Linked DNA regions of Homo sapiens: region 1 is linked to region 2. A link means that fine-mapping ties the variant in region 2 to the expression of a gene that starts in the linked region. Tissue or cell type: testis. Region 2 holds a variant in brackets; the other region holds the start of a gene. All regions are shown on one strand. Distances are from middle to middle.

Region 1 (2,677 bases), 72 kb after region 2:
AGCTGCCTGTGCATGGAGCCTGCAGATCTGGAACAATCTGCACTGTCGACACCCAGGGCCCCAGGACAGGGCTCTAAGGCCTCTCTTTTGTTCTCGAACCCTTGTGGGCCCACCAGCCCTCAGTTCCCTCAGTCCCACTCTCCCCAGGGAGCACCCCAAGCACTCCGCATGGGATTTCACAAGCACCTCCACGGTAACCTATCTCAAGTAGAACTCTGCACTAACTTCTTCCTCAAAACACAAAAACCTGGCTCACTGCCACCAGCCTGCCTCCCCACGGCCCCACGAGTGACTCACCCAGGATCCCACCCTCTCGGCACCCCCACCCCAGCTGCATCCAGTCCACAGCAAGTCCAGTCAGCGCTCCCTGCAAAGGCTCCCTGGCAACAGGAGTGTGTGCACTGCTGGGCGAGCGGGCCCCGCTGCCTCCAAGGCAACCACACCTGATCCGTTTCCAGGGGCCCACCACCCTTGGCCCTTCAGGAACACCCCACCCGGGTCCTCTGACCCTCACTTCCTCCTCATTCTCCAGGGACAGGCGAAGGGCCAGCGTGGAATTCACGTGAGGCTCAGGGCAGTGTTGGCCTCACTCAGACCTTTTCTTCCTTGGTGCTGGGTGTTCCCCAAGGTCAGGGCCACGCGCAGCACCGGTCCCAGGTGTCTGCTGAAGGAAGCCTCCTCCACTGGGGGTCCCACCTGCCACCCTCCCCTCTCTCCCCAGCTATGTGCAGGGGCCTCCAAAGCCACACCCTGGCCCCTTGACCGTCCCTCTCCAGAAACACTGATTACTGTTCTCCAAAACCCACCCGGGAGCCCACATCTACTGATTACGCCTGAGTCATTCGTTCACCAAGAAATATGCAGGGCTTCCTGCTTCAATTTGGGGAGGGCGAAGTGGTGCAGGACAGCGCCCCGATGGCCCCCTGGGAATCCAGAGAACATGCAGAGTGGGCGTGGGGGGTCTGGGCTGAGCAGAACCGGGCCTCCCGCCCTGCCTGCCCCAAAGCCCTGAGGGCTGCGGTCAGCTGCCCTTTCCCACTCAAACCCAATCTGGATTCCCAGCTCCTCTGCCTCAGGCCGCGCCCGCGCTGCGGTGGGGGCCGCCCGGGCCTCCCCGCCTGGACCCAACAGCCGACGTGGCCCCCGCCCCGTGACGATCAGAAACGTCTCCAAACAGCTCCCTCGGCCCTGGCTGCGGGACCAGCCCCGGGCCTGACCCCGGGCCACCCTCCCACTCCCCACGCGGGGGCACCGTGGCCTCCATGGGTTTGGCTCGGACCCTCTGTCCCCAGCCCGGCCACGCCCGCCCCCTGGGGTTGCCCTAAACCTGGCGGGGGGCTCCTCCGCCACCCGCCTCGCGTGTCTCAAGGCATGACAGGGGGTCCCGGAGAACCCTGCCTCGCCCGGGCCAGGAGGCGGCCCAGGGACGCCCACCCCGCTCCCCGGAGTCCGCGCGCCCTGTGGGGTCCGTCTGCTTGTGACACTAAGGGGCGCCCCGCGACGGGGGGGTGACGACCCCTACTCACACCACATTCCGCGCCATGGCGGCCACGCGCGCTTCCGGGGTCCGCGAGGCGGAAGGAGCAGCGCGCCCGCCCCGCACGGCCGCCGCCTGGCACAGCGCCCCCTCGCTTCCGGAGGCCGCGCCGCCCCCCCCGCACGCGCCAGCGCCCGTGCCGCGCGCCCGTGCCGTCCCCAGCCCTGCGCCCGCCCCGCCCCGCGCCGCCTTCTTCTCCCTCCCTGCCCCCCTCCTGTCCCGCACCCCACGTTCCTCCCCGCCCCGACCCCCACTCCCCGCGCCGCAGACTCCACAGGACGCGGGGCCGCAGCAGTCCCGCCCCGCACTCCCGGCCCCACAGCCTGAAGCCCGGGCCCGCGCCCCTGCTGCTCGCGCCCCGCCCACGCCCGCACCCCTCCCAGCCCCAGAGACCTCCCGCCGCCGTCGCACTCTTTCGGGCCTGTCTGCCCTGCCTCCCGGGACCCCGGCCTGCACGCCCCCCACACCCGTGCCCCTGCCCTTTGGCAGCTCCAGGCCACAGCCTGGCCCCGCACCGCTGCGCTTGCAGCTGCTGGGAGCTGGAAGTGGAGAACCGGGGCTGTAGTGCTGGGGAGGGCGGGTCCCCGGGCCTGGGGTCTGAAGCCCCTCTCTCCATCTGGCTGTTTTTACCCGGGAGCCCGGAACCCCAGGGCCCCTCACCTCGCCCTTCTGGCCAGCCCGGTTGGCAGCCCCCACGCTGGCCACACCAGCCACGCTGTCCATCCTCGGTGCTCCCACCACGCCTCCTCCAAGAGGGCCACTGGCCTCTTCAGGCCTTGCCGTTTGCTCACCCCCTCTCCACCCTTCTGGCCAGCCCCCTCCAGCCTCTGGCAAGGCCCTCTCTACAGGGACCCCCGTCCAAGGCCCAGTCCTCACTCCTTTCCTTGGGTAGTGCTGGCCAGGAGGGCTGCTGGGACCCTTCGGGAGTAGAGGGCAGCAGCCTCCCTCCCCTGTCCCCAGGCCTCTCCCTCCTCCCCTGGTTTCCTCTGCCTGGTGGCTGGATTCAGGCCACTTCTCCATCTATCTCTTTAACTGCCCGTGCCCCCCACCCCCAAGCCTGGCTTGTTCCCGCACCCAACAGCACCCTAAGTGTTCTTCAGAGCAAGAGGCAGGGGTGTCATGCTTCAGAGCAAGAAGCGG
Region 2 (2,677 bases):
TGCTGAGTTCAGCATTTCGGGTTGCTTGACAATCAGCCTGGGTGGGAATATTTACACCATGGTCACTGGAATATGCTCCAAAGCAAAGCATGTGTTTTCTCCCTGAGAGCCCATTGTTAAAGCATCCCAGCACACCCCTGCACTGGCAGTAAATTCCTTTAATTCCTTTTTTTTTTTTTTTTTTTGAGACGGAGTTTTGCTCTTGTTGCCCAGGCTGGAGTGCAGTGGCGCGATCTCCGCTCACTGCAACCTCCGCCTCCCGGGTTCCAGTGGTTCTCTTGCCTCAGCCTCCCGAGCAGCTAGCTCACATTACAGGCAGGCGCCACCACGCCCAGCTAATTTTTGTGCTTTTAGTATAGACGGAGTTTCTCTGTGTTGGTCAGGCTGGTCTCAAACTCCCGACCTCAGGTGATCCACCCACCTTGGCCTCCCAGAATTCTGGGATTACAGGCGTGCGCCACCGCACCTGGCTGTAAATTCCATTTTTACAGGATGACTCGGGATCAGGGCCATTCTATGAAAGGTGATGTCCCTGAAAGACAGAAATGGGCAATTCTTCCCAAGAGTTTTATTAAGGGGAAAATATTCCATTTTGTTTAAACAAGGACAAGAGATCTGACGTGCCAGGGGCCTTCTGCCCCTCCGCGGATGGTTCAGGAGACCAGGCACTCCGTGAAAGTCTCCTACGAGGCCTCCAGCCGCAGGCAGATCCCTACTACCGGTCACTGTCACTGCTCAAGGCGGTGCCCGCTGGCTTCCCTGGGTGGGACTAAGGAAAGCACATTCCACTGGGCAATATCTGAACAAAAGCATCTTCTTAATAGGAAATTCACCTTAAAAGGTGACAGGAGTCCTCCCGGGCCAGCTTCTGCGAGACAGAGCATGTAGAGGGAAGGGAAACACGTCTAATCCCCAAGCCTTCCTGTGGCCCTCAGCCCCGGGGCCTGGCACCCCCACCCTGCTCTGGCTTGGTGGTTTGTAGAGGGGTGGCACAGGGCCACGGCCATCTGCACCTGTGGAGCTGTGAGAGGAAGGGAAGGGGCACAGGCTTGGCCGCAGTCTTCCCCCAGCCCCGTTGTAATCTTTGAAAGGCTCTGTGAGACACCCAAGAGTCAGATGGGGAAACTGAGTCCCAGGGCTCAAGGGCATGCTACGTGGAGGGAAACGGCAAAAGAGCCACCGCCCAGCCTTGCTTATCCTCATAAGGTGGCAACACAAGCCACTGACGTCCCTAACAAAGTGCCACGTGCTGGAAGGTGTGTGTCTATGGGGGTGAGGACATGGGGTCAGAGGGAGCCTGGCCTTTTCTTGGAGTGCCCCTGTTCT[C/T]GCGTCTCCCCCAGCCTCCCCAGGTGCAGCCTCTGCTGGTCCTTCGGAGGGTCGTGCCTGTGGTGTCTGTGGTGTCTGTGGTATGTGGTGTGTGGTGTGTGGTGCCTGCCCCTCTGTCAGGGGTGGGGCCAGATGCTGCGTGTCCGGGACAGGCTCTCCCTCCCCCTGAACATGCCTGGCTGAGGGGCACCGCTGCAAATGTCATTATTACCAGGAGCCGTTTATATGGTGCACTTTGTCCACGCGCAGGGTTTACAGCCCCTTTTATTCCTCATAAAACGGGAAGGGAGCAAAGCCCAAGCGTGTGGGGGCCAGAGCCTGGCTGCACCCGCTGGAGAGCTGCGAGAGGTTGGCGCGATGCAGGCCCCTTTGCCACACCACCCTGGCAGGCCCTGATCCGAGGGGACCTGGGCGAAGGGGATGGACTGTGGCGGGGCCCCTCTGGAGGCCTGGGTGCAGGATGACCAGGGGTCCCAAAGAACCCGCTGTGCTTGGGTTTTCTAAAGCAGAGGTGAGGGGTGGCAGGGTCCCTCTGGGGGTCTCGGTGCAGGATGACCAGGACCCCCAAAGAGCCCGATGTCCTTGGGTTTTCTGGAGCCAAGGTAAGGGGGAGGTGTTGAGGGGCTGGGACAGTGAGTCTGGGCTGTGTCCCTGATGGGTCCCCTCTTCCAAGCCCCCTTCCCAGCACATGAATGTTCCACGCTGCCCAGGCCTGCCATCTCTCGGGTGCCTGCCCCCACGCCGCTGCGCCTCTCCTCCCCCACCTCCCCCTCCTTGCCCATCTCACCTCTCTCAGGTGTGTGACACCAGCCGTCTCTGAGCAGCCCCTCACCCCTTAGGCCTTCTGCACCCCCACTAGCCTGCACTCCAGATCCAAGTAGGGGCCGAATCCACCTCCAAGCCCCTCTCTTCAGCCCTGCTGGGAGCCCCTGATGCTTGGAACAGCCTCAGCTGCCGATTCAGAAATCAGCATCCTGTGCCCCTACTCTGCCTGAGGCGGGTGCAGCCTCCCCTCCCTGAGCCCTGGTCTGCCAGGCGAGGGGTGCTGGAGCAGGCAGGTCTGGGGCCAGGGGCAGCAAAACTGCCAGGGGCTCACCCTCCACCCTCGGAGCTTGGAATGGGAGGGCAGCCCTGGCCCAGACACCCTGGTGAGGACCCTGGCCTTGGCTCACCCTGCGGCTCCTTCACAGAGCTCCCCCGCCCAGGCTCCCCAGAATGGAGTCCAAACTTCTCTCCTATCTGGACTCTCTTGCTTCTTTGGATTCCGGTAGCTGTGAGGGGACTGGAGGTTGGGGGTTCCTGGGCAACCTCTCCTGAAGCACAGGAGGCAGGGGCTTCACCCAGGCGGCTG

Evidence for each region. PIP is the estimated chance that this variant, and not a neighbour inherited with it, causes the effect.
Region 1: MRPL23 starts here. The variant in region 2 is fine-mapped to the expression of MRPL23 in testis (GTEx, PIP above 0.99).

Annotation. Positions count from the first base shown.
Region 1 is chr11:1,946,229-1,948,905 of GRCh38, reverse strand. MRPL23 (mitochondrial ribosomal protein L23) reads right to left here and starts at 1,574. Exons shown (of 5, transcript NM_021134.4): 1 at 1,527-1,574. The coding sequence starts at 1,543.
Region 2 is chr11:2,017,897-2,020,573 of GRCh38, reverse strand. No RefSeq gene overlaps it. Among named protein-coding and RNA genes, the nearest start is that of H19, 21 kb to the right of the region's middle. The variant C/T (reference allele first, on the strand shown) is at 1,327.